7 separate regions of the Homo sapiens genome follow, and regions 1, 2, 3, 4, 6 and 7 are each reported to be linked to region 5. The links are microRNA targets in miRTarBase. Many come from high-throughput screens and were not tested one by one. Region 5 holds a microRNA gene; each other region holds the end of a gene's coding sequence.
Evidence for each region. Region 5 holds the annotated microRNA hsa-miR-192-5p (CUGACCUAUGAAUUGACAGCC, at 1,450-1,470, shown strand). A microRNA usually pairs through its seed, bases 2 to 8, with sites in the 3' UTR of a target mRNA and lowers its output. Matches are read on the target gene's strand: a 7mer-m8 pairs with bases 2 to 8, a 7mer-A1 pairs with bases 2 to 7 and ends in A, and an 8mer does both.

Region 1 (4,067 bases), not on the chromosome of region 5:
TGTGCCCTTGGTAAGCGGTTAAGAAATGTAGTTACTGCTGCCACCATGATGATGATAGTAGTGACTCTCCCTTTTTATCTGTTTTCCAACCCAGGGCCATCCAGGAGAGCCTCCTCACCAGCACAGAAGGCCTGTGCCCCAGCGCCCTGAGCGAGACAAGCCGTTTTGATAATGACTTGCAGCTAGCCATGGAGCTCTCTGCCAAAGAGCTGGAGGAATGGGAGCTCCGGCTCCAGGAGGAAGAGGCTGAGCTCCAGCAAGTCTTACAGCTGTCACTCACTGACAAATAGACCTTTCAGCCTGTGAGCCTCTGCACAAAGCAGAGGCTGTGGGCTGTCACAGATGCTGTGTCAACCAGGGCCCTAGGGCTAAGGGCCTGCACCTTGCGTGCATGCAGCAGGCAACAACTGCCCCTTCTTTATGCAGAGGTGCAGAACCAGGGACTCCTGGGCCCATCCAGGCTGCTCCCTGGGGTGGAGAAGGGACCAGGGATTGCAGGCCCCATCTCCAGGCTAAGGGGAGGAGAGCATCATCACTTTCCATTAGCTGTATTGGCTTGCAGGTCACATTTTTACTACCAGCTTTAGACAAAACCCCAATCCCCGCAGGTTTGTAGATAAATTTTTATCAAGGAGTGATAACAAGACAAGTTATTGCAGAGTCAGGGTGCTTTTATATATAAGAGCAGCAGCCGCCTTTGTAAAGTGTGATCTATGAGAATTGGAGACACTTCTTTACTGTTCACCAAAGAAATGGGTAATCTGTGCTGATCTCCTTATTTTTACCTTTTTACAGGGTTTCTAGGACATTGTCATTATTCTTCCTCCATCTATCTGATTCCATTCCTTCCACACCCAGCTAAAGTTAGAGGAGATACATATAGAATCTATTTTAGATTATTGTTAACTATTTGCATCAAATTAAGATACACAAATGGCCATGGATGTTGCCTTAGCCTTAAACATTACTAATAGTTTCACATCACCTCACTGCACGCATCGAAGGATCTGATTTGAATTTGTAAAGGCAATTCTTTTGAGAGCAGGATTCTCCAGGCTAAATCAAAGGCAGCTAATCCTGTCCCTGAAGGAGCAGCTAGGGGAACCTGAGGCTTGTTCTTGAAGTGGGCAAGCTGGCCAAAATATTGGAACACACAGAACCAAACCAGGTGTGTTCTACACCTGCATGAGTGAAGGATTTCCACGTAGACACCTAGGAAGAGCCCGCATGCCCTAGACTCACTCCAGAGGAAGGATTGATTTGCAACCAGAAAGGGAGCTGAAAACCACGGAGCTCCATGGCTCTTCATTCAAAAGGGAAAATAATGATTCCACGTTGCTTTTTAGAGTTCAAATCAACATCTTTCTGGATAAATCTATTTTTTAACAATCTTTTTATTATTTGTAAAAGATATAAAAACAACTCCCATCAGTAGCAATACAAGGTTATACATTTTAACCAGATTTTCTCAGGCCTTTTTTGGATACCTTTAGTAGTTAACTCTCTTTTGTCAAACCCTCTTGTATATAACCATCGCACAACATACAGAACCCTGGGGAATACAGCCAAGGGCACTGCTCACTGTGGCCCGTGTATTCATTCCCACAGGCTGCACTGAAATAACCTGGTAAACAACACCCTCCTCCATTTTGCGTCTATTTCTTCTATTGTGCTTCTTTGGGGATAGGAAGAGAAACATAACTACTGTTCCAGGTAACGTCTGTATCATACAGTTAGTGTTGCCAGTGAAACGTTCCCAGATACAAAGAATTGTGCTTTTAATTCCATTTCACAATCTGTTTTGTTTTTTTTTTTTGTCATTGTCTGACCAAAATTCCTTCTGCACATGAGGCCAGTATAGGCAACGTCACATTTGTTTGTTTCAAATATGCAGTGTGGTATTTTGTTTACTTTGCATTTACCGTGAGCAAAGATACTTCTTGGAATGGCTGCAGTGAGGCCGTGTCATTGGCTCACAAAAGTGACTCATAGGTAATTTCTGTGTTTGCATTCCACTGCTCTGCTCCCTAAGGTCCTTGACTTTCTCCCCAGGAATTCACTTAAAAAGGGACTGAGCATTGTGTCAACCTGTTGCAGTGTTTTTCATATATGTGTTCACTCTAAAAATGCAAATAAAGACTGCTTCCTTAGAGGGTGCTCATACAAAATTCCAGTCTTTGAGTCTTTTTCCTTTTCAGTTTTTTCTAGTCACTGGATGTACCCACACTTCCTGTTACGTATGTCAGTAGAACATTAGAATGCCTCACTTCGCTCAGTTCATCACTGCAAAGGTGGCATGCTCCTCCCAGCCTTCCTGCCCAGGTTAACAAGCCCCATGCTGCTTGTTTCAAATGGCAACTAAAAGCAAGCCAGTGTTGGGCTGTTCTGACACCTCTGTGGTCCTCCTGGAGGGGAACTGGCTCTTGTGGGGTAAGGGAAGCCCAGCCAACATCAAAGCTCTGCATCAATGCTATCCCTTGAAGCCAACTGCTTTGTGAGGCTGTTCCTAGAAGTCCAGATGATAAGGCTTCCAAACTCTTCCTATATCTAAATAAGCGGGTATTAAAAACAACAAAGGCAGTGGCCAGTAGAAATGTATGGGTTCCAGAAATGAGGCTGTATTTCTGGGAAGATGTAAAGGAGCTGCTTTGCTTTTAGGGGAAAGTAGATATCAATACTTTGAAGCCACAAGGACACTATGAAGAAAACCATTACTCTTTCAGGTCAAGAGGTGCAATGACTATGGATTATTTAAAAACTGAAAAGCTAAGCTTGAGTGGCCCAATATCAGCAGGAAGTGGTTTTTTTTTTTTGTTTGTTTGTTTTCCTGAGACGGAGTTTTGCTCTTGTTGCCCAGGCTGGAGTGCAATGGCGCGATCTTGGCTCACTGCAACCTCTGCCTCCCGGGTTCAAACGATTCTCCTGCCTCAGCCTCCCGAGTAGCTGGGATTACAGGCGTGTGCCACCATGCCTGGCTTATTTTTGTATTTTTAGTAGAGACGGGGTTTCACCATGTTGGCCAGGCTGGTCTCGAACTCCTGACCTCAGGTGATCCACCCGCCTCGGCCTCCCAAAGTGCTGAGACTACAGGCATGAGCCACCGCACTCGGCCAGAAACTTTAATTGAGCAACTTCTGCACGTTAGACACTGCTAGGAACTAAGTTCCTAAGGCACTCTGCTCTATAAACAAGCTTGTCACACTACATAAACGTGGCATGTCAAGGGATTGAAAGTCTGCTCTAAATAATGACAGGAAAGGGAAACTGCCATAACTGCCAGCTTGGTCGCAGTCTCCTGCTGACCACAAATGACATCAAGGAAGATGAACTGGATGTGGAGATTTCAAGTGATTCAGTGGTACAGTGAGTGATGAAGTTCAAAGTACCACCTAGGCCTCTGTTTAGAAATATGTGTAGGTTTAAGCCTGAGGTCCAGGTGGAAAAAAATACAACATGCTGATATGACTCCACAGTCACTAAATCATAGGCAGCACTAGGAGACTTTTATCTCAACTTTAGGCCAGGCGCAGTGGCTCACGCCTGTAATCCCAGCACTTTGGGAGGCCAAGGCAGGTGGATCACCTGAGGTCAGGAGTTTGAGACCAGCCTGGCCAACATGGTGAAACCCCATCTCTACTAAAAATACAAAAAAATTAGCCAGGCATGGTGGCTCATGCCTGTAATCCTGGCTACTCTGGAGGCTGAGGCAGGAGAATCGCTTGAACCCGGGAGGTGGAGGTTGCAGTGAGCCAACAATGCACCATTGCACTCTAGCCTGGGCAACAGGAACCAAACTCCGTCTCAAAAAAAGAAATTTCACTTCACAGAGCTTCTTTAAGTGATTAGATCAAATTCAGACACACACCTGCATTTCAAACACTTGGGAAATAACTGGTGGAGTAAAACAATATATAGGATTTTACTTTAGTTTTAATTGACGTTTTGCTCAAAAGCAAAGAACTGAACATTTCAATGGTTCAATGTTACAAGATTACAAACAAAATCCTTACACAGTTACAGTATCCTACTTCGGTTACTTCACATTAAATGCAGGTTGTTAAAATCAG
Region 2 (4,067 bases), not on the chromosome of region 5:
CGGGGTGGAGACAGCTACGCCATGGTGAGGACACGGGGCCGGGGGAGGCTGCAGCCGACGGCCAGGCCCCCGTGCGGAAGACCCGGGGCAGCCCCCGCCTAGGAGCTGCGCAGACACGTCCTGGGGCCGCTGTTTCACCGAGACCCGAACGGCTGCTCCCCAGGCTCTGAGTGGCGTGTGCGGCAGCCAAGGCTGGGGGAGCTGTGACTTCTACACGGCGCCAGGGCGCAGGGATCCCTGCTGTGCCAGGGTCTGCCCGTGGGTCATGGGGAACGTGGTTCGAGGCCCCTCTGCTGTAGCCACGCAGCAGCGTCTTGCCGGGTGCGTGGCCTTGTCTGCAGGCTTGAGACCCAGCGGGGCCGTCTGTGCCACGTGGGGTCTGCGCCGGCCCAGGGGCCGCACCGCTGTCAGCCACAGGATGTGTGTCTCGGGGCTGCGGCAGACGGGGCTTCTGTGCCGTGTGGGGTCCGACCCCTCGGCCTGGGCAGGGCGGCCCGTGGGCACCGTGCTGGGGACGACCTCCGGCCTCTGCTCCTTCCCCGGCTCTGAGTCATAAAGGCCTCCCGCTCCCCCGGGAGCCGTGTCTTCTCTAGGAACTGCTGAGCGCGGCTGGGTCTGGCTCTGCCTCATTCCTGCATCTGATGCCCGCCCGTTCTCCCCCAACTCCCCTTTCTCCATCTCCTCCCTCCCCTCCGTCTTGCCCGTCTCCATTTCCTCCATCTCTCCCTTCTCCGTCTCCTCCGTCTCGTGGCTGTCCAGACCCCGTCCCTCCGCAGGCTGGGTCCCCCCTTGTTCTGGGCGGGGCTCTCGGTGCCGGTCTGGTGCCAGTGCTGGGAACCTGTGGTGCCCGTCACCTCTGCTCCCCGTCACCTCGGCTCCACCTCGAGGAGCTGTGTCCTGTCCCACGAGGAGGCGCCCCGGGACCTCAGGGCTGCAGGCCATGGCTGGGTCCGGCTTTGCCTCATCCCCTGTATCTGAGGCCCCCCAGTTCTCCCCCATCTCCCCCTCTCCATCTCCTCTGTCTCCCCCGTCTCATGGCTCTCCGGGCCCCGTCCCCCCCACCAGGCTGGGTCCCCTTATTCTGGGTAGCCCGTCTTGCCATCACTGTCCCTGCCGCCCCTCAGGACAGCGCTGTGGATGCCGGTCTGGTGCCGGCGGTCACCCCTGCTGCGCCTTGAGCAGCTGTGTCTTGTCCCGTGAGGAGGTGCCCCGGGACCTCAGGGCTGTGGCTGGCACCTTTCATGGTCCTCCCGGAACAGAGCTCATGCTGCTGCTCCTGGGTGGACCCGGGGCTGCCCCTGTGAACACTCTTGGTTCTGACACGAAGGCACCCCGTGAGGGAGGGGAGGGGTGGGCTGGGTCGGGTCCCTGCTCGGGGATCTCCAAGGGGTGACGGCCACGAAGTGCGGGGGACCCACGATTGTCATTCAGAGGGTGAGGCGCTGAGCCCTGGAACATCCTGGCTTCTGGCGGGACGCTGGCCACGGTCAGGGTGCCCCGAGTGCTTGTTTTGTGGGGTCCCTGGCCCCCTGCACACGTGAGCCCTCGGGGGAATGGACCCCCAGAACACGTGGAGGGCATGACTGCTGGGCTCTGGGTCTCCCCGCAGCGCCGCCGTCCACGAGGACCCCCGACAGGACCCCCCCACTTCTCCGGCAAAGGTGTCGGTGTGCACGCCCGGCCCCGGCACTGCCCGGGGCATCTGGGGTTGTGGCTGGGGAAGGACGGGGCACTTGGGGGAATGCATTGGGTACAGGGATGTCGGAGGATGCTCAGTGGCTGTGCAGGGGCCTCACCAGCGTCGTGGGTGGGGGACGCTGTCTTTCACGGCCCCAGGGAGGCCTCTCATGTCTCAGCCTTGAACCCTAATTGGGGGGGCTCCCAGTGTCAGTGTGGGGAGGCTGAGGGCGCTGGTCAGAGCCCTCCCATGACCATGGGCTCCGGCTCATAGGTGTGTGTGTGTTGGGGGGTGGTGTCCGGAGGTGGTGTGGGGCGGACATGGTCTCCCAGACGGGCTCCCCGGAGCTGAGGGCAGGGTGGGCCCTGCGGGCCGTGGCTCCCAGTGTCATTTCCCTGCGGCAGAACCTCCTGCCCTGCACCTGTCCTGTTGTTGGGGGTCCTGACCCTTCGCAGACCCAGGTGGGGGCATCCGGGAATTCAGGGGAGCACCTGGTGACACTGAGGACACCTTGGGGACAGCAGCATTCCCCCGGGAGGTGCTGCCTCGTCTACCCACCACCTGGAGCCCCCGCAGTCTCTCCTCAGGGGTCACGGGACCACCCTGTGCGTCCGCCTCCTTCACAGCGACGGCTGCCGGTGGATGAACGGGGTGCGTATGCTGCTCTCGGGGTGGTCCCGGCTTGGCCCTGCCCTGCCGCGTGGACGCTGCCACCTCCGTTTCCTGGGGGAGAGTTTTGTCGTGTGTGAGGACGGGGTTGTTCCCATGGTCACCACCTGTGACCCTCACCTGCGTGCAGAGGGAGCACAGCTGGGCCTGGGCTCATCCACGTCGGGTGCCCCTGGGGTGCTTGTGGCCTCCCCTGCACAGGGAGCTCCTCCTGGTGGGGCCTCCGACCCCCCTCATTTAGGTGTCCCCCAGCTGTGGACGTCCCCACTCTGGCGCGGGCTCCTTCCTTCTGGGGTCGTTTGTGGAACGGGGCCTGGGTCCGTGGCTCCGGGAGGGAACGGCCCCGAGGGTGGGGTCCCCCTGGCTGGGGAGGGGCCCCGCAGAGAGGCCCAGGCTGCACCCCGAGGCGTCTGGCGTGGCTGCGGTCCCCCTCCAGCACTGACGCTTGTAAATCCTGGACGGAGCCACGCTGTGGCTGAGGGAGCCGAGCCCGTGACTGAAAATCCTCCAAACGTACAAGCGTGATCGCCAGAAACGGTTTTGTACGTTTACACAAAACATTCACACAGCCTGTGGTGGAGGCTCCTGTCCAGGACTGAGGCGCCCGGGAGCCGCCGGTCACCGTTGTGCGCACACGGACCCTTTCCACAGACGCAGGCCCCGGAACCCAGGCTGGGTCGGGAACGGCAAGCGCCAGAGGGTGTCCGTGTGGGAACCCGTCCCATTCACGCGCGGCCCTACGTGTCCCCCTGGCACAGAGCTCTGGGCAGGTCCAGCCACGAACCCACAGCGGCAATCAACACGCTTCTGTGAATAAATAAAAGTTTATCATTCCGTACAAACGCACTCATTTTCCACAACAGTTTTTACACGAGCCGCGGTGGCCCGGTGGTGGCACGTGGGGAGCGGCCCCGCGGCGGCGTTCTCGCGGGCGGCGTCACAGCGGCTCCAGGTCCTCGTCCCCGCATGCGTACTCGTACAGGTCCACGGCGCCCAGCGGTGAGGGCGCCTCGAAGAAGGGCCTCTGGGCCAGCGGGGAGCGCAGCGCACTCAGCTTCTGCTCCACAGGGCTGAGCTCGGCCTCGAACCTGCAACGAGGGGATGGCGAAGACGTGGCCAGCAGCGCGGAGCAGGCCCTGGGCCGTTTTCCGGGAAACACAGGCTGCTCGGCCGCCAACCTCCAGCACGAGACAGTCCCCTGAGCCGACCTTGAGCTCCAGCCGCTGAGCCAGCAACGCGCTCCTGGCTGAGGACGCCGGCTCCACGAATGCTCCCGGGGGAGGGGCCTGCGGTGCAGGTGAAAACCCACCCAGGACGGGACGGAGCCCCGGGCGTGAGCTACACACAGAGGACCTGGGCGGGCGCGCCTCTTCCCCAAAGCGAGCTGCACGGGACCTGTGTTTACAACTGGGTCGTGGTGTCCACACAGGACTGGAGAACAAACAGGACCACAGTTTAGACACATTCTCCCAAAGCACAGAAGCTCCCAGTGGAGGCTACCACTTCCGTTCTGACCAGAACACGCAGCAGTGCGAGGACTGGACGCGCGCCTTCCCTTAAGGTCTCGGCAGTGACGTCGGGCGCTGCTCCGGGGAACCCAGCGCGGCCACGGACCACACAGACTCTCAGAGATCCTGTGGGGACACCTCTGCTTTCCAAGACGCCCCCGACAGCCTGGCACTGAGCTCCCCGCGGTCACCCCCACGGACCTGAGCTCCCA
Region 3 (4,061 bases), not on the chromosome of region 5:
GATACATTGTGAGATTGTTTAGGCATAATCGTATATTGGAAGTCATTTAGGACGCATCTTTAATGAAGACAGATGATGTGCTATTGATGTGAATGTTGTATTTCCCAGCTTGAAGTACTTTCTCACATGACTTTGCATAATTGCTTAGTTGTAGTTTTATGTTGGAAGTGACTTTAGCACGTTTCTAGGGAAGAGATGTTTTGCCACTGAGTGATTTTCCACACTGACATGCTTTTTCAGATGAATCCTAAGATTCACCTTGATTTTATACATTCAAGCCTGAACATTAACCGCTCCCTGGGAACGTGAGTCACCTTTGATTCCTGGGCTTCCTCCAGGACACGAACACTAGGAAGCCAATGTTTCAAGGAGAATTTGACTCAGATTCTTGGCTCTACTGTAGTGTATGTGACTTTTAGACCCTTGCAAGGTTCAAGAGTACTGGGTTTCAAAAGCTATAATGTGACCAAAGTCAGGCTTAAAGCTGCAGAAGCTCATTCCACACCCTGAAAACTTTTCTGAACTCTACATTGAAAGTCTGTTAAAATGTTCCTTAAAACCTTTAAAGGTGGACTTAAGAACAAGAAGTAGAGTTGTGAGCTAAGGCTGGCAGGGTGGGGGAATGGGAGGATGAGACAAATATCAGAAGGATTAGGAAAACCGAGTAGAGGACCTTGAAAATGCTGTTGTCTTTCTTTGCCCCATCCCCTCTCCTCCACCATATTTCTGTCTTTTACCCTTAGGCCTGCACTGCCTGAAAAGAAGGTGGCTGATCTGAGCACTCTGAATGAAGTGGGCTATCAAATCCGAATTTAGCCAAGCCATACCGGCCAGCAAGAGGGTTTCTGTGGTGCTTCTCTCTGCACTTTACCCAGCATCTTCAGGAGGAACTGCAACTATTTATTAAGAACTTGTGAATTTTATTTTTAAGGATTCACCTGGAAATAGAATCTGAGTGGGTGGTAACCATTAGCTTTAAAAAATTCACTAAAAGGCACCATGAAAAGGCTGAAGTAATAAGCCCCACTGGGGTTGGACTATGTCCCTCACTCAAGATCTTAAGGATAACCGTAACTGAAGTTTTATATTTTTCCATTTACCTACTTTCTTTTACTTGCTTTGAACATTATGCCTCACCAATAGTAAATGTTCATGAAATAATCTCTTGAACTTTTGGTATAGTAAGGTAACTCTAACAGTATTACTGTCTTTTTCAGCAATAACAGAAAGCAAAAATGGGTGGGTTTTTTTTAAGCAGTTATTACCTCAGCATTTTGACATCAGATATGCAAACTTAATGGCGTTTTGTTTTTTTATATTCTATTTGTATTCTTTCCCCAGTATTTCCCATGGGGATCTCCACAAGTTTGGAGTTTTTTCCTGGTGCACACACGTGAGGAGATTTAAGGTACTATATGCAAGTGTTTTACTAAAAAGCACTGAAATTCTTCTGGCAATACAAGAACCATTTTCAGGATCTTGGAGTTACTTCCTTCTTAATCTTTCTTAAAGCATTCACTGATGTTTTTGTTTTTTCAAAATGAAACAAAAATATCACATTGAGAAGCTAGTCTATGTTCTGTCACTAACATTTAAACTTTGCAGACTCTAACAAAAAGCACAAGAGGTCACGTACTATTATACAAATTTAGCGGTACTGGATTTACCTCTGACATTAACACACTCAGGCAGAGACCAGGAGTGATCAGCAGGTCTTCAGAACCAAAAAACCTTTCTGTTCACATTTCATCTGATTTTTAAACTGAGGCAGGCTTTGATTCTTCTGAAGGATGCCAAGAATCAAACTAAGGGAGGACTCACTGTTAAAGATGTGTTCTGATGTCTTATATTAAGACCAAATGTGACATGATGTGATTATCTTCCAGTACTTTGCTTTTAGGTACCATTTCATGACATTTTAGGAATGAGTATTGGAAAATATAAAGAATTAGAAAAGCAGCACTTTTTTTTTAATGGAAAAGTCTTCGGTCCAGTGTTACACCTTATAGTGTAATTCAGTCCCTAAGCACAGAATGAATGTCTGGCCTGCATATGGTAGTTACAGTGTAACCTCTGGCTGCAGACCACACAGGACAACCCTAACAGCCTAGTCTTGTATGGTGTAAATATCAAGAGTACAGCTTCAATTTCATTTGCTTTATCTTAGCAACAATGCCAACTCAGGAGAGCAGACGGCCGATTTCAGTGAAGTCTGGTAGTCAACAGATGTTATTTCAGTCTCAGTGCATCTCCTCTGGCTTTCTTTGACTGAAGGTGTTTATAGGAAGGAAGTTAAAAAAAAAAAAAGCTCATTGAGATTCTTTACCAATTCTTTACAAGATTTCTGGGGGTGACAGGGAAAGCAAAAGGACTTCAAAGCAAAAGGGTGCACAAGAGCTTACTTCACCCTGAAAATCAGTATTATTAATGAAAAGTACTGTTTTCTTAAAGAAGTCGAATGTCCTTTAGATGAACAAGACCAAGTATACATCTCCATTAGATTAAAATGTAGCACAGGGTTAAAAATTATCAGTTTAATCTCTTTAAGAACAGTATTATCAGAGTTTAAAATGAGTTAGCTCTGTTTATCTACACACAGCAAACCCATTCGCAGCCTCTTGGCCACATGTATTCAGATGTTTGAAATAGTGAATCATTTCATTTTCATTCTAAAACAATACTGACTTAGCCATATACCTTCTGTTTGTCAATCTGAAACTTGCTTACATCTAATAAGTAGACCTCTTATAACACTGCAACCATTCTAAGAGTTGGAATTTATTTTTGCCAAGTATTAAGTACTGTTACATCTAAAATACAGAATGTCAAATGGTTGCATAGCTTGTTTCCCACAACAAGGAGGAAAAGAACAGGAATACAAACTCTGTAATATGCTGATAAAGAAGCCTTAGAACTGCCAACTGGCTTGATGGTTCAATTAGTAAGCTAATTTCTCCCACACCCGCTCCTTGATTTTTAGACTAATTTTCCCAAAGCAAGGTTTAGTCACACAAACTTGAAAGTACATTTAAAATGTTCTTAGTTGTCATCCTACTTTTATTGCCTATGGAATATGCTAATTTCTAAAAAAAATACGGGAGAGGCACCAAACCCCTAAATTCTAGTGCAATAATTTAAAAAACAAAAAACAAAACAAAACAAAAAACATGTTATATGCACCCCCCTCCCAAAGCTGATTTTAAGACTGGCTAGAATTCAAAATATAAAAAATAAAACTATGAAGTGATTTGAAATCGGTTTTAAAAAGTTGTTAGTGCAAGAGAAATTTTATGTTTAAGCCATCATGGCAATATATGCAAAGTTTAAATGAATGACAGAAATCTTGATTTTAGACTGTATGTTGTGCTGTTTTGAGTACACTTTATTTCGGAGATATTTAGTATTTTCTATACACTCTGAAATCATGAGCATTTCACTTTTTCTAAGTCAATTATTTCATAAGGATTTTATTAATAGATATTGGTAAATAGAACTTTGGAAATCTTAATTCAGAATTCTTACTATACCTGAGTCTTTTGTAAGCTATAGTTTTATGTACAACCTTGTACAGTTTTTTTGACATACAATTCAGAACTTTGTTTATTCTCTTGGACTTTGTTCTGGCCAATACATTTTTTTTAAATCTTTAAGAAGAACTGTGATTGTTTTAGTGGGTATTTTTCTAATTAAATGAAAACTTGTATAATGGTATTTTAGAGAATGCCAGTAAGTGCATGTTTCAAGTTAATGTTTTTCTCATCACTTGTATGTTTCTAACACAGCATGGGACTTTAATAAAACCATCCTGGAAACTTAAGGATTGTTTTTCTTCTAAATATGTAAGATGTGGCCGGGCTCAGTGGCTCAAGCCTGTAATCCCGGCACTATGGGAGGCCAAGGCGGGTGGATCACCTGAGGTCAGGAGTTCGAGACCAGCCTGACCAACATGGTGAAACCCTGTCTCTACTAAAAATACAAAAAATTAGCCGGGCATGGTGGCGGGCGCCTGTAATCCCAGGTATTTGGGAGGCTGAAGCAGAAGAATCGCTTGAACTTGGGAG
Region 4 (4,067 bases), not on the chromosome of region 5:
TTAGATAAATATAAGACGGCAAACTGAAATGCCATCTTCTCTAAACGAAAATGCCATCTTTTCCTCAAAGTTACATTGTAACACAAATTTCATTCCTGGACACTTTGTGACTGGTTCACTAGTGTGTGTGTTTTAAGAGAGCATATTTAGAGAAATAAACACGTATTAGATGCAAAAAAATCATTTTTACTAACATCAGTACTACATTACATACATGAATATATATTTAAAACATTTTTTAATTTGTCAAAACTCCTTCCCCTATATTATTATAGATTTCAGTTGTTTTAGAAATCAAAAGTAATCTCTAAACAAATTAAAGGCAGTGATTCTCAGAGTGGGATTGTACTGGAATCATCTGAAGGGTTTTAATGTGGCCTTTCCCTGCTCTTTTCAAGAGATTCTGGAGAAGGTGGCAGCGTGACCCATCAGCTAGTAATGCCACTGGGGGTGGACACGTAGGGTGTGCTTCCTTCAGGGGTTCCAGGGACGCTGGTAATCAATAGGGGCAGCCTCCGCTGTTGGCAAAATGGGTGAGCCTGTCACAACGGCTGCCTTTGTATTCCCCCTCAGAGTGATCCAGAGTTTGTGCAGTGGAAGAAAGAGTTGAACGAAACCTTCAAGGAGGCCCAGCGGCTATTGCGTCGTGCCCCGAAGTTCCTCAACAAACCTCGGTCAGGTACTGTGGAGCTCCCAAAGCCATCCCTCTGTCACAGAAACAGCAACGGCCTCTAGCACCCAGAAACAGGGAGGGTCCTCGAGGAGGACACACCAGGGTCTCAGCCTTTTGGGGTGAACGAGGATGAGGCATCTGATCTATTCGCTACCGGGACTCCTCCAGGCTCCCGAGAGGAGTCGGGACCCTTCGGCTTGGGGTCAGCTCAGCTCCCTGCCTTGTCACATTTGTCTGCATTAGAAACTACTGAAGAAATAAAAGTTCTTTTTCTTTGCTACACACTTTGGTACCTATGAACCTAGAACTTGAAGTGACTCCTACTTATCACGTAAATTTTTATGTCTGATATCAAACACATCTTAGACTCCCCAGAATGGAATTTAAAGATGTTCAGTGTTGGGTAACAGATTGCCCTAAGCATTGCCACATATTCTGTCTAGTCACTGCTGATTTTCTATGTCTTTGCTCCATACTGCTGGGGGATGGGAGAGCCACAGTGTGTTTCTTTTGTGCACTTCGCAACTGACTTCTTGTCCTGGGGTTAAAAGTTGAAGATATTTTCTGATGATATTAAAAGTTGAAGATATTTCTGCACTTGGGCCCTCCTCTGGGAGCCGCACCCACATGACTGCCCTGCCTCTGACCAGTCTGTTCCGGGGCCCCCTCAGCCAGGTGGGAATGACGGACACGTACTATCCAAGTGTATGGGATTAACTAATCATTGAAGGCATTCATCCGTCCATCATTGGAAAGATTTACAGTGATTCTGAAGGACAGGCCGTGGAGTTTTAGGTTTCAGGGGCAAGAGCAGTTTTCAAAAGTCTTTGAGTCCAGTGTGCACGAGTCGACAAGCAGTACCTGGCATGCAGGAGCACTCATGGGTGAGTCCGTCTCAGGTCTCGACAATTAGCAGTTGTGTGACAGTCATTCTGGTTCCTTCTGCCTGACCCTGGGAGACATATCAGTAATGGATGTACAAAAGCAGGTCTGTTTTATGTCTTAGTATAATTTCAGATGAATTGTATTGAAAAAATGCTGAGGAATGAATGTGTCAAAATGGGTTAACTGTGTATATTGACTTTCATGTCGTCATGCATCTGTCATGAATGAATGATACTTTGCACTGGGCTGTACGACAGTGAGGACCTTAGGGCATGAAGCCTTTTTCCTGGTCCCAGCAGCATCTGCCCTGTGAAGTTTGTTTTCTCCCACTGCCTCCAGGCCCCACTGATACCCCCAAATAGATGCTGGGTTATGAGAACCAGCGAAATCCCCCATGTCATCAGTCTTAAAAAAAAAATTTTACAAATCCACGTATTTGTCCCATTCTTGGAGTAGTTTTAGTGTATGTCTTTACATTAACTACTAACAGTATAAATAACTTGACATCGTAATTGTCTGCATCCTGTCCTTGATATTTTTAGCAGTTCCAAATCTTTGTTTTTGTATTTGTTTGCTGTGTTCATGGGCAAAGTAAGTACTTTTTAATGCAGTTATTTTGAGAGTTTGGAAGATAATTACCAAAAGGGTCCATTATTTCATAAGAGTTACTTTGCAAAAAAAAAAATGTGGGTTTTTTTTTTTGTCTATCTCAACTACTAGTTGGGGTTTAAATTAACATACATTTTCTACTATCTGTTATTTCCAGTGTGGGAGGAGGGATGTACTACTTACATGCATTCTCCTTATTTAAAAAGGAAGAATAGTATTCAAATTCTGTTGAAACACACACACACACACACACACACACACACACACACTCCAGAAGCAGAAAAGCCATTGTTCTTAAAGAGTGAATGTCTTCCCAGCCCTGGTTAATTATAGCTGTGACTGATGCCGTTCCCGTCTGCATCTCAAGCTCATAGGTTCTCAGCATGTGCAGTTGAGGATGCGCTGGGCCTCATGCCTGTTCTAGATCTCCAGGATAAAGGGCCTGCTGTTGACTCCACCAGGGTCTGGGCTTAGCGTCTAATATCTCGTACCTAGGGCGTGAGCTGCACAAACGTGTTCAGAAAGATTATTCAACTTTCCCATACTTGTTCTAAAATTGAGCTGATCCGCATCTCTTTCAAAAACTAGAATTTCTGCTCTAAGAATAGAACATAAGGCTCCACTCCCTTTTAGAAAAGATATATGAATTGGAAAATGCTCTGAAAGTCCTTTTGCTTCAAACAAAAGTGTAAACTTTTACACTTCCCCAACTCACATTTGATTTGTAATGATATGGTTGAGAAGTACATCTAGATGTCATTTATTAAAAGTGCTTTGTAAGACTAGATTGAGCTGTTTCTGAGGGCGGTCACCAGTTGTGTTGGGGTCTGGTTTGAGTGCCTTCTGCCAAAATGTTGTGATGGAGGTGTTTCTGCGACCAGACACAGGATACCGCTGTGTCTGCACCCGGTTGCCTGCATGGCCAGAGGAAAAGTCAGTTGGATTAAACATCATGGTATACTTGGCTGTTGTTTTTTTTTAATTTTTTAATTTTTTGGGATAGGGCCTCGCTCTGTCACCCAGGCTGGAGAACAGTGGGATGATCATGGCTCACTGCAGCCTTGAATTCCTAGGTTCAAGCAATCCTCCCACGTCAGCCTCCTGAGTAGCTAGGACTACAGGTGCATGCCACCTTTCCTGGCTAATTTATTTTTTGGGTAGAGATGGGGTCTTGAACTCTTAGGCTCAAGTGATCCTCCTTCCTTGGCCTCCCAAAATGCTGGAATTAGAGATGTAAGCCACCATGCCCAGCCATAGTACTTGGATGTTTTAGAAGGTTTTCCAAGTATTACATAATTCCTAGATGTTCACCCTTATTACACTCCAACTATTAAAAAGGTCAAAATTCAGCCTATTTTTTTTCATTATTTTAGATTCCTGTGGTTGGGATATTTTAACATTGATGAGAAAAATAATTGAGGTTGATATTTTTACAAAATCATGCGGTAATAAGTCTTGATTTCATGATTCAAAAGAATCAATAAAGCCTAAAAATAATAGATTACTTTAAGCTGCTATGTAAGATATATATGGAATAAATTAAAAACCTTTGTGAATTCAGGTTTATTATTTTTAACCTAAAACATTCTCTTTGGTTCATTCATCCCCTCATGTCATGGGGGCTCATTGGTTTTCCTTCTTTGTCATATTTAAGTATGATTTTTCAACAAAACTTCTAGAAGTCAGCTTATTATGTCACCATTCATGCAAAGTGCTCATGCCTCTGATTGGTCCATTCACTGACGTGACAATTTCAGGTCCTATGTTTAAAAAGAAGGGGCTGGCCGGGCACGATGGCTCACGCCTATAATCCCAGCACTTTGGGAGGCCGAGAGGGGCGGTTCACGAGGTCAGGAGATTGAGACCATCCTGGTTAGCAGAGTGAAACCCCGTCTCTACT
Region 5 (4,067 bases):
TCCTCTCCCCACAGCGGAGAGAGACCCAAGGGTCCCAGGGCGGATGCTTCCCACCAGGCCAGCCCAGCGTGCAGGGTGGCCTCGTAAGTCCTGATTGACATATGGACAGTGGTTCAGAGAGGTTACGCTACTTGCTCAAGGTCACCCAGCTCCCAGGCCCCTGCTGTCTTCCAGGCCACTGAGGTCCTAAGCGTCCTTCCAGGCGAGCCACTGCTCACAGCCTGTTCCTCATGTTCTGCGGCAGGTTTGTGTATCTACATCTTTTCCAGTTCCCTGTCGTCCCCCTTCCTACACCTCGTCATCCACTATCCCTGTTTGTTTTCTCTGTTCCTTTCTAGTTCTCTACCTGCTCCTCTTATTTTTATTTGAGACAGGGTCTTTCTTTGTCACTGAGGCTGGAGTGCAGTGGCACAATCCCAGCTCACTGGAGCCTCGACCTCCCAGGCTCAAGTGATCCCCCGCCTCAGCCTCTTGAGTAGCTGGGACCACAGGCATGCATCACCACACCAGGCTAATTTTTTATTTTTTGTAGAGATGGGGTCTCACTGTGTTGCCCAGGCTGGTCTTGCACTCCTGGGCTCAAGAGATCCTCCCACCTTGGTCTCCCAAAGTGCTGGGATGCCAGGTGTGCACCGCCATCCTCGGCCTTACTCTTCTCTTCCTCTCTCAGCCCCTCTGCCTCACTATCCCTCTTTCTGTGCCCTCCCCCACACAGCCCCCCACACTTCTTCTTAGTCTCATCTTCAGCTTCCCATACGAGGCCATCCTCATGAAATCAGGCACTGGGAGGTCCCTGGGGACTGACAAGTGCCAGCTGTCCCTTGCTGTCTCTCTGCCCCATGGCTGCAGCAGGGAGGGTGGGCAAAGGGCAGAGGTGACAGTGGCCAAACCTGAAACTGAGGCCCAGCTCTGGTTGGGAAAGAAACAAGGAAACAAAATAACTTGGGGACAGAGGGCGTGGGGTCATCAGAGCGGGCAAAGGCTGCCCAGGAGTTGTAAATCCGAGCCGCTCCCGGCTTTATGAGGCCGATTTGGGGTTGAGCCTGGACTTTGCCCAGGAAGGAGTGCTGGCAGCACACGGGGCGCCAGGTGTGGGCCCCGGATGATAAGAAGCCTCGGTGAAAAGACCATGGACCTGGGGCCACGAAGACTGGGGAGCCCAGGTGAGTGGGCATGGGACACTCTCCAGAGCCCTGCCGAAGGCGGACGCCAGGCAGGGCCCCGGTCTCCAATTGGTTCCCGCCCCCTGTAACAGCAACTCCATGTGGAAGTGCCCACTGGTTCCAGTGGGGCTGCTGTTATCTGGGGCGAGGGCCAGTACCCACGAAGAAGGAGAGGCAGGTGCTGGCCAGCAGACCAGCCAGGACTACCGTGGCGACGCTCCCAGGCCAGATGGTGGCGGGTAGTGGAGGGCTGTCGGTGGGCTGCCGAGACCGAGTGCACAGGGCTCTGACCTATGAATTGACAGCCAGTGCTCTCGTCTCCCCTCTGGCTGCCAATTCCATAGGTCACAGGTATGTTCGCCTCAATGCCAGCCACCAGGACCTGCAGGGATAGGGGAGGGCCGGGGGTGTCCAGCAGTCAGCAGAGATCCTGCGACCCCAGTGCAGCACTCATGGTCCCACCTCCCTCTGTCTCATTCCCCGTGAATGAGCCTGAACAGCTTCAGTCCTGCCCCTGCCCTGCCTGCCCTGTGGCACCTCTATGCTTTGCCCATGCTGTTCCCTTGGGCTGCAATACTCTTCCTAGCTTATTTGCCAGGCTCACTCTTACTAACCCTTTCAAGCTCTGTCCAAGCATTTGCTGCCTCCAGAAGGCCTTATTGAAGCTTCTAAGTCCCCACCTGGGCACCCCCACACAGTGCTGCCGCAGAGCACTGCCCTCTCGGAGCCCCGGTGCTGGTTTCTGCTTATGTCTCGCTCCTCTCCCCATCTGTGAGCTCAGTTCCCAGCCCAGGCGCGTGCCCAATAAATGTTTGCTGAACCAATCCTGAGCCTCTGTCTTGCACCCTGAGGAAGCACCCACCGACATGCAGTGTGGCCAAGGGGGGCTGAGTGCTCTAGGCCCAGTGTTTGTGCTGGAGCCCCCCCACCCAGGATGGGGCCCTGAGCCAGCCTCCCCATCTGCTTCCTACTCTCCCCTCCTTTGCCAGTCTCATCTCCCTGGAGCACAGCCCTGTGGTTGGTGGAGCAGCTTCTCCAGCCCCTAGGATTCCTAAGAGGGCCCAGGACCCCAGCTGCTGGTAGAGGAAGAGCAGCCAACCCAGGACAGGACAGCTGACCCCACCCCTGTCCCGCCTCCCACAACAGCCTCATTTCCACCTATTTCTTTGTGGTGTTTGTTTGTTTGTTTTGAGACAGAGTCTTGCTCTGTTGCCCAGGCTGGAATGCAACAGGCTTCCTCCCAGGAGGAAGCCTCCCCTCCTGGCATGATCTCAGCTCACTGCAACCTCTGCCTCCTGGGTTCAAGCGATTCTCCTGCCTCAGCCTCCCAAATAGCTGAGATTACAGGCATGCACCACCATGCCCAGCTAATTTTTGTGTTTTTAGTAGAGACTGGGTTTCACCATGTTGGCCAGGCTGGTCTCGAACTCCTGACCTCAGATAATCTGCCCACCTCGGCCTCCCAGAGTGCCGGGATTATAGGTGTGAGCCACCGCGCCCAGCCCCACCTGTTTCTTATACAACGGGGTTCTGAGGAAATTTTCCTTTTTTTTTTTTTTTTTTTTTGAGACAGGGTCTTGCTCGCTTTGTCACCCAGGCTGGAGCGCAGTGGTACAATCACAGCTTGCTGCAGCCTCCACCTGCCAGGGCTCACACAGTCCTCCCATCTCAGCCTCCCAAATAGCTGTGACTACAGGCACGTGCCACCATGCCTGGTTAATTTTTGTATTTTTCGTAGAGATGGGGTTTCACCATGTTGCCCAGGCTGGTCTCAAATTCCTGGCCTCAAGCAGTCCTGCCTCAGCCCCCCAAACTGCTGGGATTACAGGCATGAGCCACTGTGCCCTGTCAGAATTTTTCATTTGAATAAAAAGGTTTCTGGTACTACAAAATAAAATTTGTAAAATGGGAAATAGAGACCTAGGAATAAATGTCAAATTGCTTAATAACAGGCGTTGGCTATTGAGCCCTTTCTGTCTGCTGGGCACGCACATCCAGGACCTGGTCCTCCTGGCATCCATCATGAACCTGTTTGGGACAGGAGGACACAGGCTCAGAGAGGGTGCACATTTGCTGAAGTCACAGAGCAAGTTGGACCTTCTCCTGGGGACTGTAGGCAGCCAACAAACATCTGGCCCCTAAGACACTGTCTCTCTCCCCTTCCCACAGGCAGCTCTGCTCACACTGTCCTGGCTGCTCTGAATCCCTGGGCCCCGATTGGCCCCTGCCGTGGCCCAGCTCAGCAACCCCTCCCTGCAGACCATCCCATGACTCTGCAGGCGCTGCTCCCCTCTCTGCCCACACCCCGGCTTCGTGGGCCTCTCCCGCCACCCTTATCTCATTCCCTACAGAGTTAAGGAGCCCTGTGTGCTTATCTAATCCTGTGCTAGTTTCAGACTCCTTGAGGGCAAGGTCCATGACTTACTCATCCTCCCTGGCTGCTTCCCCCACCCACCAGCATAGTAGGTGTTCAGGATACATGGGCTGGATGGTAGGGCCCTGGACTCTAACCCTCTTGGGGCTGTCAGGCCTCAGACTCAGAGCACTGGCATAGGGTGAAAGGGGAGCAGACAGCAGCCACCCTGCCCTGGGGGTCCTCCTGCATCTGCCTCTGCAGAGCACTGCGATCCCACAAAGGCCTGCGAGGGCTATTGGAGACCTGTTCCAATGCATGAGCAAGGCGGATCCAGCACCCTCCCCCAGCTCCTTGAGCCCACTGACCTGTGTCCTTTACCCAGCAGGCCCTGGGCCCATGCACATTTCCCTGGCCTGGGTCTCACCTCCAACCCCTCTCAGAACTCCTCAAGACCTGCCCAAGGGTCACTCCCTCGCGGACACCTGCCTGGCCCCCCGCCCCGCCCCCCATTACCCCACTCACTGGCTCCCTGGATGCTCTGTGGCTGG
Region 6 (4,057 bases), not on the chromosome of region 5:
ACCTGGGGCCACCGTCTCCTGCCCTACCTGAGCAGGAGTTCCATGGGAAACCTCTATGTAGAATCGGCTGCGGCTGCCCTTGTGTTGGTCATTCTCATCCAAGTTATCTCCCATGTACCTCTGAGGTGGGGCCCAGGGTCCACATCAACAAGCAGCTGACGACCCCTCAAGCACCATCACTAGAGTGTGGCTGGTGGTGGGGCCCCCTCCTAACCATCTCCCACCTCCCCACAGGACTCAGGACACCCCTGCACGGCGGCCGACCCTGACAGCTGCTTCACGCCTGTGTCTCCGCAGCACTTCATCGACCTCTTCAAGTTTTAAGGGCTGCCCCTGCCATCCCTATTGGAGATTGTGAATCCTGCTGTCTGTGCAGGGCTCATAGTGAGTGTTCTGTGAGGTGGGTGGAGACTCCTCGGAAGCCCCTGCTTCCAGAAAGCCTGGGAAGAACTGCCCTTCTGCAAAGGGGGGACTGCATGGTTGCATTTTCATCACTGAAAGTCAGAGGCCAAGGAAATCATTTCTACTTCTTTAAAAACTCCTTCTAAGCATATTAAAATGTGAAATTTTGCGTACTCTCTCTCTCTATATATATAGTTCAAAAATACTTTAGGTGGTCAGCTCCACATTCTTTGTTGACGTGACACTAACGGCCAATAATATGCTTCTTAATTATCAAATTATAGTTTCCCAATTGGGAAACTAATTGGGGGTGGGTTACAAAACATTTGATCCTTGTAAATACATTGTACAGAATATTTATTTTTTCTCAAAATGCATTTTAACTACTACATTGGCTGTGCCCAAATGAGTCCTCTTTGAATAGAAAGTGAACCCAGGGCAATGACAGCCATTCTTGTCTTAGGGATTATGGATCGGGGTATGAAGTGTGCACACGCAGCCCAACAACGGGCAGTGGTCTCTGTGCTCCTAGGCATCCAGCACAGGTTCTGGCAGGGCACCCCTGCTGGGGTTGGGGGCTGGTCTGTGCATAATCCTGGACTGTGATGGGAACAGCCCAGTGCAGTCTAAACTTCAATTGTGTTGAAACTACTTTAATAGACAAAGTAATAAATCATGTTTATCTATTGATTTAAACTTCATCAGTTTTGCATCCTACTGAGAAATGTTAGTGATTTTGATACTTAAATCCTTAAAAGATTGCTTCGTTTTTAAAATAACGCATGTCCATTTTAGAAAATTAGAAAATCAGTCCCACCACCCAAAGATTATTGTGCATGCTGAAAAGAGTATGAAAAATCCCCTCAGCAGGCATAGGATAGAAACGTATTGTTGTATATTTCCATTTTTGAATAGGGTCAAGGAGCCCAAGCAAATCATTTCTACTTTTTCCTTTAAGCATAATAATAAAAGTATACTTTTATGGCGTTATAAATAGGACTAAAAAAAGATTCTGGATTTTTCAGCCCCACTTCTGTGAACTGACACAAATGGCCAAGAATGCATTTATTTGTCAAATTATAGTTTCTCCTGAGGCGATGCAAATACCTGGGGCCTCTGCGAATATATGTTAGTTTTTCATAAGACCATAAATGTCCCGTATACCACTGTTACTTCACAACGCCCCCCGTCCCGACCCTGCCTTTTTTTAGAAACGTAGAACCATATCCTAAATGTTATTTGGAAACTTGGCTTTTATTAGCTCCACAGAATCACCCAGATGGAACAGGCTTTTTCATCACAACATATTGGGGTTCCTGAGTGTCTCGCCGTTAGCATCAATAACTATGATAAGCATCGTCACACAACAATGTGGCCGTCTCCTTACAACCACTGGTAGTACAGCCAACATCATGAGTCAAACATATTTTAAGGCTTTTAAATATATTTCTAGATTGTTCATGAAAAAAAATTTTTTTGGAGTTTGTTTTTGAGACAGGGTCTTGCTCTGTCACCCAGGCTGGAGTGCAGGGGTATGATGTCGGCTTACTGCAACCTCTGTCCCCCAGGCTCAAGTGATCCTCCCACCTCACCCTCCAGTGATCCTCCCACCTCAGCCTCCCAAGCAGTCAGGACCACAGGCATATACCACCATGCTCAGCTGTTTTTTTGTATTTTTAGTAGAGATGGGGTTTCACCATGTTGCCCAGGCTGGTCTCAGGAGTTTGAGCTCAAGCAATCCACCTGCCTCAGCTTCCCAAAGTGCTGGGATTACAGGCATGAGCCACCACGTCCAGCTGAGAAAAGAAATTGTTCTAATCTAGGAAAGGGAGTAAGTACATTGAGTTTCCATTATCCCTGAAGCACAGGTATTTCTTTTTCTGTTGGTGCTGTTTTAATAAGTGAAGAATTTGATGTATGATAAATTGTGAGCTTGAATATTTCCATATATTTATTATCCATTTGCTTTTCTTGTTTTTGGTAAATTACTTAATGTGGTATTTGCCTGTTTTTTGGGGTGGATGTCAGTCTTTTTTCATGTTAGTTTCTTCTTAAAAGGAAACTATCCTTTTGAAGTTGTGGTTCTTTCCCCTAATTTGTCATATACTGTTACTGTCATTTAATTGTTAGATGTTATAACAGTTCTCAGCTGTGCTATCAAATCACAGATGTGCATTTAACTTGTATAAATTGAGCAGTACTTGCTTGGAAAACATAACCATATTAATAGTGTAGGATTCCAGCTGTTCTGCTGGGCTGGCATATTTCCACAGGCCATGGACACAGCTAGCCGCATTGCCACTGCATGGGTCACAGCCTCCTGCAGGTGCGTTCGAGGGACAAGCTGTGGGAGCTGGGCAGGTAAGCAGGGATGGCTTACATTGCTGGGGAGAGATTGAAAGGTTAATGGAGGGTATAAGGACAGAATAAAGACAATTTTGAGGCACTGATCAGTTATTTACAGAAGATCGGACAACACCAAACAGAGATGAGAAGAGAAATCATAGATCTCCACTTTGGAATGGTATTTTTGAATACAGTTTCTATCAGGGGGCCTTCCAAAAGTAGGGATGCCACTCCTGTGAGATTAAGTTACATTCTGATGCCTTCATTACAATGAAGTAGATAATTCAGGACCCCAGGAGCCTAAAGCCAGGTAGTAAGTTTCACTTGCCCATCGCTCCTGTGAAAGGCAATGCCAGACACTCTCAAGATAGAATCTCCAGTCATTCTCGGACCTGTTCTCAGTCTGCGCTGCTCACTCAGGGCTGGTGTCTCTTGACACCCAGTTACAACTTCCTTTTGCCTATTTTGAGTCAAAAAGTCACATTCCTCACCTAATTTATGAATACACACAAATTGGAAAGCCATGCAGTAGCCTCTCAGGAGCAGACCGATTTGTAGCTGTCGTGGTTTACTGCATGACGTACAGGCTCTCTGTATGCACTGTGTGTGCGTACTGTACAGGGCTGTACACAGCAAACTGTGTCTACTTTATGGAAAAAATTTAACCATCTGTGAACAGTTTTTTGCCTTAAGTGCTGCTTTTAGAACCAAACTGTCATATAAGATTTATCAGCTCTTTTAACACCTTTGTAGATTCCTGATGCTGTGTACAAAATCATGTCATCTATGAATAGACAGTTTCACTTCTTCCTCTCAGTCTAGATGTCCTTTATTCTTTCTTACCCCGTTTCGCTGGCTAGAATCTCTAGTACAATGTTGAATAGCAGTGCGAGAGTGAACATCCTTGTCTTGTTCCTCATCTTAGGGGAAAGCTTTCAGTCTCACCATTAACTATGATGTTAACCCTGGGTTTTCCATACATACCCTCTATTAGGTTGGGGAGGTTCCCTTCTATTCCTAGTTTGTTTTTATCGTGAAAGGGTGTGGATTTTGTCAAATGCTTTTTCTGCATCTCTTAAGATAATGTAGTTTTTGGCCTTCATAAGATCATGTGCTGTTATTACATTGACTGATTTCTATATCTTGAACCAACCTTGCATTCTTGGGTCAAAGCCCACTAAGTCATGGTTTATGATACCTTTTATACATAGCTGTTAGATTTGGTGTGCTGGAACAGCCAGCCCTCTGTATCCACGGGGGATTGGTTCCAAGACCCCCACCCCCACCCCACCTGCCACCCACCACCTTG
Region 7 (4,059 bases), not on the chromosome of region 5:
ACAGAAAAACAGGTATTTCTGGAAATCTGTAACAAAAAACTTTCGCAATAGTTGAGCATTCTATTTAGTTCCGAGTTTCTAGACAACAAAGAACAAAAGGAAAAATACTGAGTTACTGTTAGGAAATAACACAGCTGACTTGATTGAACCCATAAAGTTGTAAACTCTTACTGCGTGTAATACAATACTTATTCCCTCTTTCTTTTCTTTTTCCAAGATAAAGTGAAATCTTTCCGTGCAGCTCTACAAGAGGAGGAACAAGCCAGCAAGCAAATCAACCCGAAGAGACCCCGTGCCCTTTAAACCGGCATTTGCTGCTAAAGGATACCCAGAACCCTCACTACTGTAACATACAACGGTTCAGCTGTAAGGGCCATTTGAAAGTTTGGAATTTTAAGTGTCTGTGGAAAATGTTTTGTCCTTCACCTGAATTACATTTCAATTTTGTGAAACACTCTTTTGTCTACAAAATGCTTCTAGTCCAGGAGGCACAACCAAGAACTGGGATTAATGAAGCATTTTGTTTCATTTACACAAATAGTGATTTACTTTTGGAGATCCTTGTCAGTTTTATTTTCTATTTGATGAAGTAAGACTGTGGACTCAATCCAGAGCCAGATAGTAGGGGGAAGCCACAGCATTTCCTTTTAACTCAGTTCAATTTTTGTAGTGAGACTGAGCAGTTTTAAATCCTTTGCGTGCATGCATACCTCATCAGTGATTGTACATACCTTGCCCACTCCTAGAGACAGCTGTGCTCACCTTTTCCTGCTTTGTGCCTTGATTAAGGCTACTGACCCTAAATTTCTGAAGCACAGCCAAGAAAAATTACATTCCTTGTCATTGTAAATTACCTTTGTGTGTACATTTTTACTGTATTTGAGACATTTTTTGTGTGTGACTAGTTAATTTTGCAGGATGTGCCATATCATTGAACGGAACTAAAGTCTGTGACAGTGGATATAGCTGCTGGACCATTCCATCTTATATGTAAAGAAATCTGGAATTATTATTTTAAAACCATATAACATGTGATTATAATTTTTCTTAGCATTTTCTTTGTAAAGAACTACAATATAAACTAGTTGGTGTATAATAAAAAGTAATGAAATTCTGAGAAGAGTTTTATCTTAGGAAAATACATATATATGCAGTGTGTGTGCCAGTGTGGTATTAACAAGACTAATAGTGCAGTTTGATCCTTACCAATATCATTACTTAATTTGAAGTGTTCATTAGCACCCCAAAATATACCTTTTCTATGTACTGTTAAAAGAAATTGGCTTCTGATGCATGAACATTTACATGTACATTGAAAGTAGTCCATAATAGAAGTTAGTTTAAGCCAAGTGTAGACAGTACATTACTCCCTTGAAAAAGAATTAAGTTGAAAGAGTTGACTTTGCCTTAAAAGGCAGATCTAACCCAAGCTCCATCCAGTACCAAATGTGAAACTTCATTGTTGTTTGGTGAGAATCGCCAAATTCTCACTAATACATTGGTATGGTGTAGGGCATGCTACTTTTTAAACAGCAGCACTTATTTTTACAGATTGCTACTCCAAGGAAGAAAACTGGCCACTTTTCATGTAAATATTTTGTTCAAAGATTTGTATATCTCTCTAGGAGTTTTCCCTCAGTTCCCAGGATGGGGTCCAGGAGTAGATTAACAGCTAAAAATCTCCCAAGGATATCTTGTTTTGATTTATTTACTCCAGGGAACTATCAGCTCCTTCACAGGAGCCAAAGGGGAGCTATGAATAGAGGGTCACATGAGCCAGATTCTTTACTGTTCATAAAACCCAGAGAGTAGTTGTGAAAGATCCTAATACAATTGTGAAAAGCTCTGTAAACATGAAATCTAAAACAAATGTAGATTTTCACAATATGCTTATTAATAAATGAAGTCTATGGAATAAGTTTTAGAGATAATTTACTTCAGTCACCTTTGTTTTGGAAAGGACTCAGGTTTTCTTGCAGCTGTAAGATATATTCTATTTGTGTTTATTTCAAAGGGAAGAGGAAGGATGGAGAACTGTTACAATTGACCTTGCAAAGGATATTTAAAAAAAAGGTAGTTTTTGAGATTAACCAACTTTCAAAGGGCAATAAAGACATGTGAATTTGCTCATTTTAAAGCACAACAGATGATTAGCTTCAAATTTATTATTTGCATTGGATGGGTACTGTCTTTGGAAAGTCTCCTTATAGACAAATATGCTGCCTTACACTATGATGGCTTCATTCTGATCAGGTATTTTAAAAATTAGTACCAGAAAAGATACTGGAGGTAATATAATACAGTCCTTCAGCTTTACAGATAGTGAAAACTGAAGGCCAGAAAAGGAACTAAAACTCAGCAGTTCATAGGGGTAGAGGGAAATAACCTGAGAAAGCCGAGTTAAATCTTAAAATTTTTACTATAAGGATAGAGATGATACAAGTGAACTCTGCAAAATAGTTTTGTGAAATTAAACAAAAAAATCTACTCTTAATGTATATTATTTCATATTTGTTTAACAAAAGCAGCTTGATGCCTTTGTTCTGGATTATACATTAAGAACAAGCATTATTTTAATTATGTAGTAACATTTACTATGACTTTGAAGCCAGATTTCAAAATCTGGCTTTGTTAAATTAATTGGAAACACTCTTCTATTAAGTTAGGTATTAAAAAAAGCCAAATATCAATAAAGATATTTTTATTAATTTTTTATAGAAACAAAATAGCTACTATAACTCTATTATAGTATATTAACAGCACTTAGTATTATATTGACTTAAACATAGTAGCTAATAAAACTAGTTTATGACATCTATTGAAATTCTCAGTCTGACAGTTTTAAAATAGCTTAAAACTAAGCACCAGGTATATGAAAAAGGAACTGGAAATTTTAATTGTCCAGAAATCATAGGAATACTGGGAACCTGTAGTTATGGGAAATGGCTGTTTTTCTGAAGTTGAAACCAGTTTCAATTACAAAACCCTCTGAAATTTTGCTAAGCCTATAGTTATCTCCCTAAGAACCATAAAAAAAGATAATTTTATTGTTAATTTCATTCCAGTTTAGCTTCCTCATTTTACATGTTGGGAGTCATGCCCTTTAATATGCCTGGCACTGCACGGTGGCAGTAGCAGACTTGGGCTTACCCAGAACCCTAAGTCTCTGACGCTATAGGATAGCGAAAGAGGTAGGCAATCGTAACAGACACTGTATAGGATAAATAGGGAAGAGAATGAGAGAACCAAAATAAAAATAATTTAAGAAACAATTGTTTTACTGTACATGTGAATAACAAGAAATGGTACGGGGAATGTGAATAACACGAAATGGTATGGGGAATGTGTGACTAGTGAAGCATATTTTAACTTTTTTATTACTGGAGGAACAGAGCTAAAGGCCTAAAGAAGGCCTTACAGTATATAACAGTAAATAGAAGAGTAACATCTTTATACAATAAACTGTTAGAAATGATAAGTGTAAAGTTGTGCGTCTCTGCGGCTCCTGAACTTGAAGATTATTATGAATAGATTGGACCAGCATTATATATTAAAAACTTTGATACTTAGAACTTTCCAACTTTAAAATTCAGAATCATAAATGGTGACAACAGTAGTAGTATTGAACCAAAAATAGTCAAGTAAATAATGTCTCAGTAAAGCAAAAGCATTATCTTCTCAAATACAAAAAATACAAAATTCATTTCTTTTCTTGACCTTGAAAATTTCTGTTTTCCAAATACCTAGGAAAAATGAATACCTTCTGCGTTGAATCCATGTAGCAATCTGAAAAAAGAAATCAAAATGGAATGGTACTGAAAAGCTAATTTGTAGCACATAACGGTATATAGTTCTATACCATTAATACTAAAACATGAATACAGCATGCTTACAGAGCCCACCCACTCCTAATACTAGTTATTAAAGAAACGTTACTGGCTGGGCGCAGTGGCTTATGCCTGTAATCCCAGCACTTTGGGAGGCTGAGGCGGGTGGATTACCTGAGGTCAGTAGTTCGAGAACAGTCTGGCCAACATGGTGAAACCCCGTCTCTACTAA

Region 1: the mRNA of ANKRD13A is a reported target of hsa-miR-192-5p. The part of its 3' UTR that is shown has no 7-base or 8-base seed match.
Region 2: the mRNA of PPP2R3B is a reported target of hsa-miR-192-5p. The part of its 3' UTR that is shown has no 7-base or 8-base seed match.
Region 3: the mRNA of VASH2 is a reported target of hsa-miR-192-5p. The part of its 3' UTR that is shown has no 7-base or 8-base seed match.
Region 4: the mRNA of GRK3 is a reported target of hsa-miR-192-5p. Seed matches in the 3' UTR shown: 7mer-A1 at 3,504-3,510.
Region 6: the mRNA of FBXO25 is a reported target of hsa-miR-192-5p. The part of its 3' UTR that is shown has no 7-base or 8-base seed match.
Region 7: the mRNA of DIMT1 is a reported target of hsa-miR-192-5p. Seed matches in the 3' UTR shown: 7mer-A1 at 3,713-3,719 and 7mer-A1 at 2,044-2,050.

The regions. Positions count from the first base shown.
Region 1 is chr12:110,037,265-110,041,331 of GRCh38, forward strand. It overlaps ANKRD13A (ankyrin repeat domain 13A), which reads left to right. Exons shown (of 15, transcript NM_033121.2): 15 at 95-2,499. The coding sequence ends at 290. C12orf76 (chromosome 12 open reading frame 76) reads right to left here. Exons shown (of 2, transcript NM_001389625.1): 2 at 3,913-4,067. Among named protein-coding and RNA genes, the nearest start is that of C12orf76, 9.2 kb to the right of the region's middle.
Region 2 is chrY:331,083-335,149 of GRCh38, forward strand. PPP2R3B (protein phosphatase 2 regulatory subunit B''beta) reads right to left here. Exons shown (of 13, transcript NM_013239.5-2): 13 at 2,851-3,435. The coding sequence ends at 3,285. Among named protein-coding and RNA genes, the nearest start is that of LINC00685, 14 kb to the left of the region's middle.
Region 3 is chr1:212,987,769-212,991,829 of GRCh38, forward strand. VASH2 (vasohibin 2) reads left to right here. Exons shown (of 8, transcript NM_001301056.2): 8 at 744-3,817. The coding sequence ends at 816. Among named protein-coding and RNA genes, the nearest start is that of ANGEL2, 26 kb to the right of the region's middle.
Region 4 is chr22:25,721,716-25,725,782 of GRCh38, forward strand. It overlaps GRK3 (G protein-coupled receptor kinase 3), which reads left to right. Exons shown (of 21, transcript NM_005160.4): 21 at 574-4,067. The coding sequence ends at 735. Among named protein-coding and RNA genes, the nearest start is that of MYO18B, 18 kb to the right of the region's middle.
Region 5 is chr11:64,888,606-64,892,672 of GRCh38, reverse strand. MIR192 (microRNA 192) reads left to right here and starts at 1,427; the gene lies at 1,427-1,536. MIR194-2HG (MIR194-2 host gene) reads left to right here. Exons shown (of 3, transcript NR_133640.1): 2 at 1-83; 3 at 3,333-4,067. It overlaps MIR194-2 (microRNA 194-2), which reads left to right and starts at 1,234; the gene lies at 1,234-1,318.
Region 6 is chr8:468,481-472,537 of GRCh38, forward strand. It overlaps FBXO25 (F-box protein 25), which reads left to right. Exons shown (of 10, transcript NM_183420.2): 10 at 235-4,057. The coding sequence ends at 324. Among named protein-coding and RNA genes, the nearest start is that of FBXO25, 64 kb to the left of the region's middle.
Region 7 is chr5:62,385,267-62,389,325 of GRCh38, forward strand. It overlaps DIMT1 (DIM1 rRNA methyltransferase and ribosome maturation factor), which reads right to left. Exons shown (of 12, transcript NM_014473.4): 12 at 1,988-3,786. The coding sequence ends at 3,744. KIF2A (kinesin family member 2A) reads left to right here. Exons shown (of 21, transcript NM_001098511.3): 21 at 218-4,059. The coding sequence ends at 303. Among named protein-coding and RNA genes, the nearest start is that of DIMT1, 17 kb to the right of the region's middle.